Linked DNA regions of Homo sapiens. The protein of the gene in region 2 purifies or fractionates together with the protein of the main gene of each other region. This does not show direct contact. Each region holds a gene or a part of one and is shown on either strand. Other genes may lie near its edges.

Region 1 (8,068 bases), on a different chromosome or scaffold from region 2:
GCAGTTTAATACTGCTGGCTGGTTTCTCTGGTGTGGCATCTCTGTTAGCTGGAATGCAGGAAGCCACCAGAATTCGCTCTCTGGTGGCTGTGATCCCCATCCCACGTTCTTTGTTTTTATCTGCCCCCCAGTGGCCCAGCCTTGCCAGTACTCCCAGTGTTTCCTGGGGGACAAGACAGGAGTGCAGCTCCTGCGAAGTATCCCAGAATGGTGGGGAAGCCAAACGTCTGCTTCCCACTCACTCTTCCCACTGTAGAAACTGTGGGTCCAGGGGAATTCTCTGTGTGTGGCACTGTGCCAGTTGGGAGAAGGGCAGCACAGTCAAACAGAAAAGTTTCTTACCACTTGTTTGTGGCTTTTCTCCATTCTGGGGTCCAAGGAGGTGTGTCAACCTCACTCCCAAATTCTGGGATATTCAGAATGTTATTTTTGCCTGCAGATAGTTGCTCATTGGATTTCTCTGGGAACAGGGAATGAAGCCACAGAACTCTTACTCCACTATCTCCCCCACATCACTCCAGTGTTTTTGTTTTATATCAAAGTACACATACGTAAGGAATTAGATATAATTCAGATTTAACTGGGCCCCTGCATCTTTATTTGCCAAACCTGGCAGCTCTACTCATGAGTGATCTGAGAGAAAGTTCCCTGGTAGCCTTTTGCAGTTCCTTGCTTCCTGTACCATTGAGAAAATAAGAGATTTTGGGAGCAAAGGTCTTGGTCCTCTCACCCCTAAGCCCTCCTGCATCTCTGTATGTGTGTATCTACCTTTGCTCCTCTTTCAAAAGGGTCTCAATGTTCTTACCTAGGGCCAGCCTCTTTTTTTTCTTTTTTTTTTTTGAGATGGAGTCTCACTCTGCCGCCCAGGCTGTAGTGCAATGGTGCGGCCCCAGCTCACTGCAACCTCTGCCTCCTGGGTTCAGGTGATTCTCCTAACCCAGCCCTCCTGAGTAGCTGGGACTACAGGTGCCCGCCACCACACCCAGCTAATTTTTGTATTTTTAGTAGAGATGCTGTCTCACCATGTTGGCCGGGCTGCTCTCAAACTCCTAACCTCTGGTGATCTGCCCACCTAGGCCTCCCAAAGTGCTGGAATTACAGGCATGAGCCACCACGCCTGGCCTCTACCCTCTTTTTTAGGGACTGATTCCCATTGCTCCTTCTCCTTCTAAGGACCTTGTGTCTGAGTTGTCTCCTCTCTTTTCTGAATTGTTAACTTTTCTTATTCAGCTACAAGATGCTGTAAAATATCCCATCTTAAACTTCCCTTTGCCCCAGGATTGCCTTCTAGCCAGAACACCATTTCTTTACTCTACTTTAGGCAAAACTTTTAAGAGAAGGCCACACTCTGTCTCCTTGCCTCCCATTCTTTCTTGATCCAGCTCCAAATAGGCCTTGTTGACCAGCCATCTCCTGGCTGCCAACCCAGTGGTAGTCAGACTCAACACATTCCTTTCCTTGATGTCTTAGCAGCACTATGGACGGATATAGACATCTACAACCAGGCCCTCCTGTGAGAAGCCTTTTCCTCACCTGGGTTTCAGGATGTCATTCTCATTTTCCCTTGCATCACTGACCATTTCCTCTTTGTGTATTTTCTTTGCTCCTCTTCTTTCATCCTGACCTTCAAATATTTGAATGCCCCCCCTCGACCTTCATGTTCGGTGCTTGGACCTTTTGTCTCTATATACAGGTTGAGCATCTGTAAGCCAAAAATCCAAATTCTGTAACTTTTTGAGTGCAAACATGACACTCAAAGGAGATGGTTATTGGAGCATTTCTGGATTTTCAGGTTAGAGATGCTTGACTGGTAAGTAGAATGCAAATATTTCAAAATCTGAAAAAAATTTGTAATCTGAAACACTTCTGATCCCAAGCATTTTGGATAAAGGATACCCAATGTGAACTCTTTCTAGGTGACTTCAAACATTATCACATGCTGTTGACTTCAAATTAAAATAGTTGCCCGTGGCCTTTTCCCGGAACTCTTGAATTAAGTATCCAGCTCCCTTTCATGACCTTCACTTGAATGCCTAATAAACATCTCAAACTGAACATAGTCAAATAGGTCTTGATGATTTTTTCCTTCACCAACCTGCTCATCTCTGTTTTCCTCATCTTAGTAAATGACACTCTCATTCACCTCATTGCTGTATCTCAAATATTGGACTTAACTTGATACCTTTCTTTTTCTTTTCCTTTTTTTTTTTTTTCTTAAGTTAGAGTCTCGCTGTCACCCAGGCTGGAGTGCAGTGGTGTGATCTTGGCTCACTGCAGCCTCAACCTCCTGAGCTCTAGGAGTCCTCCTACCTCAGCCTTCCAAGTAGCTGGGACCACAGGTGCTCACTACCATGCCCAGCTAATTTTTTTTTTTGGTAGGTACAGGATCCTACTATGTTGCCCAGGCTGGTCTCCAACTCCTGGGCTCAAGCAATCCTTCCATTCCACCTTGGTCTCTCAAAGTGCTGGGATTACAGATGTGAGCCACTGCACCCAAGTGATACCTCCCTTTTTCAAATGAAACTTGTAATCGCATTGACAAATGCTACTAGGTCTTCAAAATATGTCAAATGTCCACCCACTTCTCACCTTTTGCATTCCTATCAGTGTGGTCCAGGCCATCACCATCTCCTGCCTGGATTTTTTTATGTATCCTCTGAAGTGGTTTTCCTGCTTCCCCTCTTTCCCCAATCCCCTGTTACAGTTTTTCACACAGTAGCCAGAGCACTGGTTTTAAAATGTAAGTCACAGTATCTCACTGCCCTCCTCAAAATCTTTCATCGACTTCCTGTTATACTTAGAGAAGTAGCCAAAGACCATATTATTTCTACTAGGCCTTCCCTGGCCTGGTTCTTAACCTTTGCTCTGAGCTTATTTCTCAGCTCTCTTGTCCATGCCCACTGTTCCAGCCACAGCAGCCTTGCTGGGCCTCTGCTATGCCAGGTACATCTTTACCTCAGGTCTTTGCACTTGGCTTTGTGTGCATAATGTCCATCCCTAGATCTATGTGTGGTTCGCCTTGTTCTTTTCAGGTGTCTGCTCAGGAACTCTCTGTTTACCCAAAGCAGTAGCACTTCCTTCCAGCTTATCATACTGTATTCCTCTCTTGCTACATTATTTTCCTTAATAGCATATATTAACTACTTGTTGTGTGTGTGTATATATATATATATATATATATATTAACTTTTTACTTGAAATAACTATAAATTTGCTATCTAGTTGTAAGAAATAATATAAAGAAATCCAGTATTCCCTTCACCTAGTTTCCCGCAGTAGTGACATGTTGCATAGCTACGATATATTAATATCACAACCAGGAAATTGACATTGCTACAATCCACCAACTTGTTTTCAGATTTCACCAGTTTTACATGCACATACTTTTTGTGTATGTTTAGTCCGTGTGGTTTTATCACATGTGGATTCATGTGAGCACAGTACAGCCAAGCCACAGCATGGTTCTGTCCTGAGGATCCTCATGTTACCCTTCATAGCCATCACTCTTTCCCTCTCCCTCCTCCCTGCTGTGAGATTTTATAATCCCTGCTTATTCCGTGCTGGTTTTGGGGGTTTGCTCATCTTTACTTCTTCAGCACCCAGAGGAGTGCCTGTCACATCATGTATTTGTTCAATGGATCACTTAATCATAAGGCAACGCTCTCCTGTGGGAAGAATTTGGGAAGAAAAGCCACGCCTGTTTGGGGCACATACAGTGTGTTTATAGTTTGGTGTGATGATCTTTCTTTTCTCATTCCTGCCACCCTCGGATGTTGAAATGCCTGTGACTCTAGCGGTAAAATTGCTTATTAGTCAATGCTTGGCTCAGATTAGTTTTTATGGTCCAAGTAGTGGGTGTCATGAGTAGAGGCACGCTAATAGCTTATAGCTGATTCATGATACCTTCTTTCAACCTCTGACTCAGAGATTTCCTGGGGAGCCAAATCCCCATACCCACTTTACCCTTCGTAGTCCGATTTGAGGTAAAAACTGACCGATGCTGCTTCTTTACCTCCTTTTCTGTTTCCAAATGAAATCCCAGACGTTACTGCCCAATCAGGTTATATTAGGTTTGAATTTCTTCATAGCATGTTATTATCTTTGCAAATACTATATTTTTGGTCTAGAACAAACAGATTTAAGAGATCTTCTGCCTCTCAAGTTTACATGTTTATCTTGAAGCACTAAAGGTTGCTGACTGTGTAGTGGGCAAAGGATCAAGTGATGCCGTTTCGCCTGACACGTTCACAGCAGAAGTGAGCTCAGACGCAGTCCCTGATGTCAGGTCACCAGCTACTCCAGCCTGCAGGAGGGACCTTCCCACCCCCAAGACCTTTGTACTTCGTTCTGTACTGAAGAAACCCTCTGTTAAGATGTGTCTAGAGAGCTTACAGGTAAGAAGAGAGTTAAATTTCCTAAAGCAAATGAATAAAAATGCATTTTGCTTCAAAGTAATACCCTTGAAATGTCATATATCATGCTAGTTTAAAAGGAAATGTCTTACTCGTCTTACCGTAAATTTTTTTCCTCATCTTTTCTTATTAACAACACTGGGTGTAGTTTCTTTTTGTTCTTATTTTTAAAAAATTAAGTATCGTATATAGCATGCAGAATTTAATGTAAGTAGACTGTAGTTTATAAAGGGTCATAATCTTACATAATCTTATTGCACTAACATAATTATATGTTATTGATTCATTTTATATAATTATATAAGTGATATTAATTACTTAATCATAATTAATGTGTCAATCTGTTAAACTGATCATTCCACCCAAAATATTTAGTCTTAAAAGTACCTCTTATAGCCATCCTTTTTTCTCGAAGCTCAGTCAATATGAGGAAAGAGAAAGTTGATGGGAACTAGCTGGCATTTATTGAGTAGTTTCTGTTGACAGTTCTGGCATATATATATAACAGTAGTGCTCCGAGAAAGGTATAGGACCTGTTTGACATACACTTAGGCTTGTAGGTTGTTAAGTGAACCCAGATAAGTCTGCTGTTAAAATCCATGACAGGCTGTCAGTCCATGAGAGGTTGAGAGCCTAGCCTCAGGAGTCAAAATGCCAAGTTTCAGATCTTGACTTGGAAATGTAATCACTGAGCAAATTATTTGACCTTTCTCTGCCTGGTTTCCTTATCTATAAAAATGTAAAGTTGGTAACTACTTTTAGAGTAATTTGAGCATTAAATGGGATAATATAAAATCACCACGAGTGTCTGGCACTTCAGAAATACAAATCTTTTTTTCAAACCATAAGCATTTTAACATACAAGTATGCCTACAAGCCTGTTCTGATTTGTTCTGAAGCCAAAAGGAACTAAATTACCTTCTATTTACATGGATCATTGATGGTCAATTGCTATTTGTAAAGCTTTAACAATTTTGTTCAAAGAGCTGATTTGGGGCCAGGTACAATAGCTCACACCTGTAATCCCCTGACTTTGGAAGGCCAACACTGAAGGATCGCTTGAGCCCAGGAGTTTGAGACCAGTCTGGGACAAAAAAAAAAAAAAAAAGCTGATTTGGGTCTGTAATACACACAGCACTGTTTGTTCATATCTTCTCCTCAAAAAGACTTAACATCTGAACGATCCATGGAACTCTTACTTTCTAACAATATGACACAGCAAATATTAAGTCTTGTCATTAGAATCATGTGAAAACATTTACAACTGGCCGGGCGTGGTGGCTTATGCCTGTAATCCCAGCACTTTGGGAGGCCGAGGCAGGTGGATCACAAGGTCAGGAGATAGAGACCGTCCTGGCTGACACAGTGAAACCCCATCTCTACTAAAAATACAAAAAATTAGCCGGGCGTAGTGGCGGGCACCTGTAGTCCCAGCTACTCGGGAGGCTGGGGCAGGAGAATGGCGTGAACCCAGGGGGCAGAGCTTTCAGTGAGCCGAGATTGTGCCCCTGCACTCCAGCCTGGGCAACAGAGCGAGACTCCATCTCCAAAAAAAAAGAAAAGAAAACATTTACAACTAATGATCTTTATACTAAGATGGCAAAAATTAGGAGGCATATAAAATGTGAGTTGTTTGCTGACTTTTCTGATTTAGTTAAAAATAAATCTAAAAGTAAACATGAGCTTTGTTGTATAAGTTAACTTATTTTGCAATATTGGTATGTACATTTTCCTGGTCAGAAAAATGAACTGACTTGAGAGACAGATGAAGGAGATTTGTTTGGGGCAGGACTATTTCTTAGAGCAGGTAATGTTCTTAGAATTGGATGTACAGGAGAAAATGAGGAATTCTTGATAACAAGGACTGGTCAGAGGTTTAGGTTGAGGCCGGATGAGTAGGTGGTGATTAAGAGGGAACTTTGATCCAGTCTGCAGCCCTGGCTGTCTCCTGCTGAGCTCCAGGGGCCCTGTGTTTAGACTCGTTCTGTCTTTTTATACAGGGCTTACAATATCCCTTCTTTCCTAACTTGCCTACACTGTATTCTTTATTTGCAGAAACACACAGGGACAACTGCTACCTTCTTTCCTTGTTTCTTCCTCAAGAATATAGTAATGTAAAAAGATTCAAATACTAAGAATAGGTGTGGTTCCCATGTTTAAAAGACAGAACACGATGTTATACCATTTAACTGTTGGCTTTTTTTCTTGTTTTAATGCAGTTCTTCTATCTGGGATCATTTACATAGTTTTCCTCATCTGACACCATATATGGTACTTGTAACCTTCAAATCTGTTGGTTCTGCATCCATGGATTGAACCAACCACAGATCAAAAATTATCAGGGAAAAAAGTCACAAAACACATAAAAACAATAACATATAACAGCATCATACCATACATATTAACAATACCATGTAACAATGCCATTTAAAAGTATTCTTTTAGGTTGGGCTCAGTGGCTCCCAGCTGTAATCCCAGCACTTTGGGAGGCCGAGGCACACGGATTGCTTGAGCTCATGGGTTCAAGACCTGCCTGGGCAACATGGCGAAACCTCGTCTCTACAAAAAAATACAAAAATTAGCTGGGTGTGGTAGTGCGCACCTGTAGTCCCAGTTACTCAGGAGGCTGAGGTAGGAGAATGGCTTGAACCTGGGTGACAGGTTGCAGTGACCTGAGATTGCACTGCTGCACTCCAGCCTGGGTGATAGAGCCAGACCTTGTCTCAAAAATAAATAAATAAATAAAAAGTATGCTTTTACATGACATTTACATTGTATTAGGTATTATAAGTATTATTTAAAGTATACGGGAGGATGTACTCAGGTTGTATGTAAATAGTATGCCATTATATAAAAGGGACTTGAGCATCCGTGGATTTTGGTATCTTCGGGGGCCCTAAAACTAATCTCCCATAGATATTGAGCAATGACCATATGCTATTATTCTAGCTACTCACGTTTTCCTTAGCTTTATTTGCTAGATCAAACATTGAATGAATTTGACCCATGTTTATTGATTTCTATGCTTTAATTTTGCCCTAAAATTCTGTTTTCTAAAGTAGTATCTAGGGGACATAGTTATGATTTGTGCCTGATATCATGGTTTTGAGCCAGAACAATTATTGAAAATAAAGGTAATCTTTAATACTGGAATATCTATCTGCAGTTGACAGAGAATTTCAAAACTGCTGTTCTTAATGATGACGTCTATGTATTTCTATATGTAAAATTATTCATTAATGTTTATTCTGTTTAGGAACACTGTAACAACCTCTATGATGATGATGGGACTCATCCGAGCTTAATCTCAAATCTCCCAAACTGTTGCAAAGAGAAAGAAGCAGGTAAGAAATTCATACTTGTTTTTAAGCTTGAGGATATCATTTTCATGTTAGTAAAACCTAGTATAATATATGAAATTTTCAATGATCTATAATGCCTTAGTGCTTCTGAAATAACACGTGAATGAAGAACAGTTGAGAAGGTTAGAATCTCCTTGGAGAGCCTCAGAATTGGTCTGTCCATTTCATGGATCCATTTTTACTTAGTGGTGGTATTTGTAAAGAAAATTTATATTTCAATTTTATTAACGTTTAATATGCAAATTTTTACTTGGAAATCTGTTGCCATATTTTAATTGGAAATGTGCTTATCTT
Region 2 (8,287 bases):
AGTTTTGGGGACCTGCCAGGTCTTGTTAAACCTGCCTGAACTCCTTCGTGATACTCTCCCCACTCTTGTTTGCTCTCAACACCACAATACACCAGAGTAAGCTTCCTTATTCTGGTGTATTGTGTAATACAGAGTGTATTACAACCCCACAAAGTGGTCGCTAAGATATGAGGTGACATATCACTCTTTAGTATCTAAAAGTAAAATGCAAATGCTGGTATTCCAAAGGCCTCTACAATTTGATGGCCAGTGGAGTAATTACATACGGGCTGTCAGCTTTTAATACATTTTAGTGATTTTTAAATTTTGTAAGTTTATGCTATTTTTCTGATTACAAATGATATTAAAGTCCAAGATTCTAAAATATAAAGGATGAGAAATAAATACACTTTCCATTCGCTGGGAACCCTCTCTTTTTAATGTCCACCCAAAAACACTTGGTTAAGTTTTGCCATTAATCTTTGTCATACAAACAAAAACAAATACAGGAATAGACATAATTCTTTACTGTGCAGAAACCAGGTCTCTGTACGGATTCTTTTTGGCAATTTTCCTACTCATTAACTAATGTCTCCACCAGAGGGTTGGAGAAGTAAGAAGTCACCAACGGTCACGTTTGCTATTTAAGATTAACTGTGGGGCCAGCGAAGTGCCTCACGCCTGTAATCCCAGCACTTTGGGAGGCCAAGGTGGGCAGATCACTTGAGGTCAGGAGTTTGAGACCAGCCTGGCCAACATGGTGAAACCCCGTCTCTACTAAAAATAAAAAAATTAGCTGGGCGTGGTGGTGGCACCTGTAATCCCAGCTACTCCGGAGGCTGAGGCAGGAGAATCTCTTGAACCCAGGAGGTGGAGGTTGCAGTGAGCTGAGATCGCGCCAATGCACTCCAGCCTATGTGACAGAGCAAGACTCCATCTCAAAAAAAAAAAAAAAAAAAAAAGAAAAAGAAAAAAAAATTAGCTGTGGAGAAAAAAGGGATGGAGCTGAATACACAAAAACTGTAATAGTAAAATTGTAACTTCTAACTCATACCCACAATGAAGAGACAGGTGACGCAGTAAAATAGTCTAAATAAATGTAGGGGCTTCCACGTCCTAACATACTCACCAAATCAGTATATAACCAAAACGCAGGGATCTTTGTTTTGTTTACAGATATACTCCAAATGCCCCAACAGTGCCCAGCTCAAACAGCAGGTGTCCTGTCTGTCATTAGATCAGTGAGCTGGGGAAGTATTTCCCCAGTGAGCATAAAGTATTTCAAAAAATACTAAAAGATGCTGGCATCCCAGTTTTGCCATTTTCTAGCTGTGAGAACTTGGGCAAGTTATATTTAATTTTTGTGCCTCAGTTTCTTCATCTGTGGAACAGGAAGTATTAAGAAAGTTAAGATAAACAAAGACTGGCTTAGAACAGTGCCTGGAGCAGAGGAAGGGCTTAATAAATTATTAAAGAAACAAGTTTTATTAGAAGCAAAGGCTATAAACTATCATTTTCCCTCCAAAACGTAAAAGTTGTAGCATGGAAGAAGAATAACTTGGATTACAAACCAGATTTTTACAAATATTTTACCAAATCCCTATTTTATTTCAAAGCATGACACTTCAGACAATACATTTTACTTTTATGCTAGAAGTGGGGGGGAGAAAAAACCCTCTGTAAAATATTCAGAACAAGGCCTGGCACCTGGAGTCTTATGTCTAGCTACTGTTATGAAGAACTTAAGGGAGGCGGAAGGATCTCTTGAAGCCAGGAGTTGGAAACCAACTTGGTCTCTACGAAAATAAAGATGGACATAGATTAGATGAATAGAAATAAAAAATTAGCCGAGCGTAGTGGCGCACGCCTGTGGTCCCAGCTACTTGGAAAGCTGAGGCAGGAGAATCACTTGAGCCCAGGAGCTTCAGGCTACACAGTGAGCTACCACTACACTGAGGCCTGGTGACAAAGCAAGACCCAGTCTCAATCAAACAATCAATAAAAGGGAATTTAAAAAACGTTTGCGTTTGTGGGTAAAAAACCAAATTAGACATGATTTCTAGGTATGAAGCAACGTGGTGGGAGACTGAAAGTCTAGGTAAACTGGAAAAAAACATTATTTGTGCCTGATATAGTTATGTGGTCTCTGGCATCTGGTGTAGCTCTGCCCTTGGAAAGCTCAACTTGTCAACATCACCTTAAAACGAAAACACAGATTTGGCTACACTTAATAGTGAAGTGCCTTGTTGGAGGAAAACAACAAGGGGGCCAAGTAAGGAGACAGAAATACCTAATCTCCAAGCTGGTTCTTAATGGAACCGAGCAAATGGGTGATGAATAACCCGGGAACGCAGTAAGACAGGCCAGAGAGGTAATGCGCCCAAGAGAAGAGAGACGAGGGGCGGCCAGGGGGAGAGGAAGCTCGAGAGGAATCGCTAGGAAGGAAACGGAGAAGACCACGCCAGGACAGCCCTGCCAGCCCCCTACCTCCGGCGGGGCCGCAGGGGAGAGTCTCACTCGAGTCGGACGCCGCAGCCCGGTGGGGCCCGGGCCCCGCTTCAAAAACAGCCGGGGCTGCGTCGCCGCTGTCATCCCACCCCACCCTCCACCCGTCGCTCCCCCACCGCGCGCCCCGCCCGGCCCGTGCGCCCGACCCAGGCTCCCTCCCTAGAGTCCCGACCTCTAGCCCTGTACCCCACTTCCCAGGGTCCCGTCCTCCAGCCCCTTAAGCCCCTCCCCAGGGTCTGGTCCCCCGGCCCCGCACCCCTCCCCAGGGGCCCGTCCCCCGGCGCTGAACCCGCACCTCCCTCCCCAGGGTCCAGTCCCCAGCCCTGCACTCGCACTCCCCTCCCAGGCCCGAGCCCGCTCCCGCCCTCCCGGCCCTGGGCTCTCAGCACCAGGCTCCCGCCCTCAGCCTCTTCTCCTCCCGCGCCCGCCGCCGCTCCTCACCTCCTCGGCGGCCGCCGCTGCACTCGCTGGGTCTTGGTTGCGGCGAAACCCGGGGCGCAGCGGCGCAGGGGTCTGGAGCCCGCAGGGGTCGCCGGGCTGAGCGCGCTCGGCCGCTTCCGGTGCTGCGCTGCGGAACTCAGAGGACTTAGTGCTCGGCAAGCCCAGAGACTCAAACACCATATCCCTGGGGGGGCTCCTCACGCTGTGTTCGGCAGGGAGGCGAGAGCGCCGGTTCAGCCAGAGACAGCTGGGGGAACCGCGCCGAACACGCTCCGGGCGGCCATTTTGTAACTCGAATCTACCCCCAAAACCAATTCGAAAAAAAGGGAGGAAAGAAACGCCCGCGTTCAGCTACTGCGCAAGCGCGCCGGCGCTTCCGGCAGTAGCACCTCCTTCCGCCGGCCGGGCCCCTTACGCGGCGCATGCGCCCAGCTCCCTGGAAACCGGCGCGGGGCTGAGAATGCCGGTCTCGCGCAAGCGCGCACGCGCCGACCTTGATCTCGTAGCCGGCGCCAGCAGCCGCGCTTTGGGGCGTCGGCTCACGTGGGGCCGGCAACGCGTCTTCCAGGATGTTCGCGCGCTAGTCGCCGCTGAGGGGCCGGCGATGCGCGAGGAGTTCCGGCGAGGAAGGTCGGTCAGTGGACATGGCCGAGGCCCGCGGTGTCCGCGTGTGGGAGCTGCAGGGCTGAGGAGAGGCCGCCCGCAACCCTCGGGAATCGTGTGAGGTGCCACTGGGGTCGCTTCACATCAGGAGGCCCCGTCTCGGGGGACGCGCGCAGGTGACCCTGCTGGTCGTACCTGGCCGGGGTGGCCCGGAGGGGCTGGGTCTCGGCGCCAGGAGGGGCCGTGTGGGCCGCCTGTTAAAGGACCCCTCGTTCGCTGACATTTGATTTTGCATTGGGTGCCTTCTCTTCTGTTTTTTTCAGCCAGTGAGATCCGTCCTGGGCACTCAGCTGTAGAGCAGGGGAACGAGTCCTGCGCTTTTTGCGCTGAGGTCTCCTGGCCCGTAGGCCAGGCAGCCTCTGAGCTCCTTTCTCACCAGCAGCTTGCGATCCCTCATCCCTGGCCCTGTCACTCCCAGCTGTTTCCAGTGCCGCCCTTTTTTTTTTTTTTTTTTTGAGATGGAGAGTTTAACTTGTTCGCCCAGGCTGGAGTGAAGTGGCACGATCTTGGCCTACTGCAACCTCTGCCTCCCGGATTCAAGCGATTCTCCTGCCTCAGCCTCCCGAGTAGTTGGGATTACAGTCGTGCGCCACCACGCCCGGCTAATGTTTATATTTTTAGTAGAGACGGGTTTTCACCATATTGGTCAGGCTGGTCTCGAACTCGTGACCTCAGGTGATTCCCTCCCCCCGCCCCACCACCTCAGCCTCCCAAAGTGCTGGGATTACAGGCCTGAGCCACCGTTCCCGGCCTCGAGCGCCTTCTTATAAACTGGATGGTGGTTTTTGTTTTCACCTTCAAAGTCGAATCTCCCTAGTCCGTTTATTACCAGAAAGAGGTCTCCACTCAGACCCAGCGAGAGGCTTCTTGGATGTCGCGTAGGAAAGAATTCGGGGCGAGTCCACGGACTAAAGTGAAAGCAAGTGTATTAGAGAAGTGAGAAAGCAAAAGAATGGCAGAGCAGGGCATTCCTGAAAGCGGGAGGAGGAAGGCGCCCGCCTTAGGTACAGTGCTTGTTCAAATCTAAGGTAACACAGCCAAAGAAATCTTGGGGGACATGGGCTCTACCACGAGGGCCCACGACCAAGGTTTCATGCGCGTCCGTGTGAAGAGACCACCAAACAGGATTTGTGTGAGCAACATGGCTGTTTATTTCACCTGGGTGCAGGCGGGCTGAGTCCAAAAAGACAGTCAGCGAAGGGAGATAGGGGTGGGGCCGTTTTATAGGATTTGGGAAGGTAATGGAAAATTACAGTCAAAGGGGGTTGTTCTCTGGTGGGCAGGGGTGGGGGGTCACAAGGTGCTCAGTGGGGGAGCTTCTGAGCCAGGAGAAGGAAATTCACAGGGTTAATCACTTAGTTAAGGTTGGGCAGGAACAAATCACGATGGTGGAATGTCATCAGTTAAGGTGGGGCAGGGCCTTTTCACTTCTTTTGTGATTCTTCAGTTACTTCAGGCCATCTGGGCGTATACGTACAAGTCACAGGGGATGCGATGGCTTGGCTTGGGCTCAGAGGCCTGACACAAGGATTGTTCATCTTTGTTTACTGACTTTGGCAAAGATCTATATTATCTTTAAAGCGAAACCTAAATGAAGAATGCTTTTGATCTTAAGATATTGTTAGGTTTTGAAGGGAAGACGAGAGTTAAAGAATGACACACAGGTCGGGCGCTGTGGCTCACGCCTGTAATCCCAGCACTTTGGGAGGCCGAGGCGGGTGCATCACCTGAGGTCAGGAGTGGGAGACCAGCCCGACCAACATGGTGAAACCTCATCTCTACTAAAAATACAAAAATTAGCGGGGCGTGGTGGCACATGCCTGTAATCTCAGCTACTTGGGAGGCTGAAGCAGGAGAATCACTTGAACCCGCGAGGCAGAGGTTGCAGCGAGCCAAAATCACGCCATTGCACTCCAGGCTGGGTAATACAGTGAGACTGCGTCTCAAAAAAAAAAAAAAAAAAAAAAAAAAACAAAGGGCAGCTCAACAGCAACACAGGTATATGGCAAAAACCTACAGAGATGGGGGATCAGCTTAATGCCAGAGCCCACTGCTGCTTACAGGCTGGGGTACTTATAGGGCAGGAGGGGAATGGGCAGTATGGCTTGCCATGTGAATATACTTACCAGTATATCTATCCATAAAACGTTCTATGATCAGGCAGTTTGGCCCTTGTTCCCTCAGAAAGTGACAGTGATGTTCCTTGCACCTTTGCTGAGCAAGGTTTGATAGGGATGTTCCTTCAATTGGGCCTTTACCCAACAGGGTTTGGTAAGAAAGTTGGGCAGGAAATTTCTCACGGCCTGAACCCCCGTGGAATGTTTCGCTTTGACCAGTGTCTGCGAAATGGCGGGGGGCTTAGAAAATGGTGCAGTTTGGCAGGGCGTGGTGGCTCACGCCTGTAATCCCAGCACTTTGGGAGGCTGAGGCGGGTGGATCACAAGGTCAAGAGATCGAGACCATCCTGGCCAACATGGTGAAACCCTATCTCTACTAAAAATACAAAAAATTAGCCGGGCGTGGTAGCGGGTGCCTGTAGTCCCAGCTACTCAGGAGGCTGAGGCAGGAGAATGGCGTGAACCCAGGAGGCGGAGCTTGCAGTGAGCTGAGATTGCCCCACTGCACTCCCGCCTGGGCAACAGAGCGAGACTCCATCTCAAAAAAAAAAAAAAAAGAAAGAAAGAAAATGGTGCAGTTTGGACTAACAGATACAGCGACATCAAAATGTTTCCTGGGTCTGTTAAGTCCTGGGTTTGTTTAGTGAACGTTATTAATCTGTTCCTGTAACCCTAAACATCTTGTGACTACTAAGAATGCAGCCAACAGGTCTCTGCCTGATTTTACCTACTGCCTCTTCAAGATGGAATTGCTCTGGTTCCAATGCCTCTGACAAACTGGCTGCTTGATCTCTAGGTTGTGACCATGTCAGGGATAGAGGCAGCTTAGGTAGAGGTAGACTTTCTTGTACTCAACATTGAATTGTGGCTTAGTTAAAATCAGAACTTTCATTCTTGGAATAATACAGTATTGTAAGGGTAAGCCAAATGATTAACACATTTACTTAATTACACATTGTAGCATTGAAATAACTGATGCCTTTCTAATGCAAATAAAAAAGATTTATGTATATGATAGCACTGTAGCTGTCTTGCGCCTTACTGGATGGATTTCATTGCTGGCTAAAATGACAACTTTAAACTGGCTATAACTCAGAAGAATGGAGGCACTTTGCACGCAGACATCTACCTCCATTGAATTTGGCTACTTCCTTTTAATGAAGCTCAAGTCTCATGTTATGAAATACTCCTCCAAAGGTGTTAGCCCTTTTTTCCTATACTCTGCCTTTCAAAAATCCCTTTCAATTTGCTTAACCCCTGAGAGCCAAAGGACTGTGATGGTTGTTAGGCTGGGTCATTGTCATCATGTTCAGTAAATAAATACCCAGACATGTCAGTTTACCTACTTTACCTGATTCCAAATGAGTCCATGGTGATGTGATCCTGCCTTTCTTTCTGCTGTTAGAGGTCCATGCCAGGAGCCAGCTTTGTATCAGTTTTGCCACAGTGATCAGGTCATAAATGTCTCAGATCATTCAAGCCCAGTTTAACCTAGCAAAGAAAATGGCAAGATAATATTGCTGTGTTCTAGCTGTGTTCTGGCCTTCATTTTAGGTAGGCTTAAACCTCGACCTGGAGTCATTCCTGTTACGATTTACCAGAAAACACCCAACAGGAAGCCTACAGAACTACACTTTGCTCCTAATGTTAAGGAATGAAAACAGGAAATGTTCTGTTATCTGCCTGGCAGTGGGGCTTTGGAGTTAATCTCCTGGCCGTATCACTTACCAGCTTGGCAGCCTTGGACAAACTGAGCTCTGAGCTCAAGTTTCCTCATCTGTAAAGCGAGGGTGTATTATGTACCTTCATTTGGTTGTACAGATTAAGTGTGAACACTTAGGTAAAGCACACAGTATGGGGCTGAGTAAATGGACTGTTAAATAAGACAGTATCACTTGTTTTTAAGTTCCTTGGAGCTTTCTCCCCTAAACAGCTCAAAAGATTTTCATTTTTTTCTAATGCTAATATTTTTCTAATTCTTGTTTTAAAATATTTTACTGTAAAATATTTTGGCCAGGTGTAGTGGCTCACACCTGTAATCCCAACACTTTGGGAGACCAAGGCAGGAGGATTGCTTGAGCCCAGGAGTTGGAGACCAGACTGAGCAACATAATGAGACCTCGTCTCGTCAAAAAACAAAAATGGAAAATTTTTAAAAAACAGGCCGGGCATGGTGGCTCACGCCTGTAATCCCAGCACTTTGGGAGGCCAACGTAGGCAGATCGCTTGACCCCAGGAGTTTGAGACCAGCCTTGGCAACATGGCAAAACCCTATCTCTACGAAAACTGTTTAAATTAGCTGGGCGTGGTGGCACGTGGTGGTTCTAGCTACTTGGGAGGGCTGACGTGGGAGGATTGCTTAACCCCGAGAGGTCGAGGTTGTAGTGAGCTGTGATTGCACCACTGCACTCCAGCCTGGGCGACAGAGCAAGACCTTGTTTCAACACAAGTAAAATATTTGTGAAATGGGAATTCAGTTTCATTTTTTTTTTAACTGATCAAAAATATAACTTTCACCCCCACTGAGGCTTAAAAGAACAAAAACAAAAAAGTGTGACTGACATTCGGCGGTTTTGGCT

What was found. Proteins that work in one complex are often made in the same cells at the same time.
Region 1: the proteins of NUP50 (region 2) and CDCA2 purify together in Homo sapiens (affinity purification with mass spectrometry; 4 studies listed by BioGRID and IntAct, with this or other methods). This does not show direct contact.

Annotation. Positions count from the first base shown.
Region 1 is NC_000008.11:25,475,731-25,483,798, forward strand, and holds part of CDCA2 (cell division cycle-associated protein 2), read left to right. Parts: intron 1-4,182; coding exon 4,183-4,394; intron 4,395-7,668; coding exon 7,669-7,756; intron 7,757-8,068. UniProt on the Homo sapiens protein: Regulator of chromosome structure during mitosis required for condensin-depleted chromosomes to retain their compact architecture through anaphase.
Region 2 is NC_000022.11:45,158,938-45,167,224, reverse strand, and holds the start of NUP50 (nuclear pore complex protein Nup50), read right to left. Parts: upstream 3,301-8,287; 5' UTR 2,929-3,300; intron 2,555-2,928; exon of another isoform or gene 2,270-2,554; intron 1,361-2,269; exon of another isoform or gene 1,109-1,360; intron 946-1,108; exon of another isoform or gene 795-945; intron 1-794. UniProt on the Homo sapiens protein: Component of the nuclear pore complex that has a direct role in nuclear protein import. Actively displaces NLSs from importin-alpha, and facilitates disassembly of the importin-alpha:beta-cargo complex and importin recycling.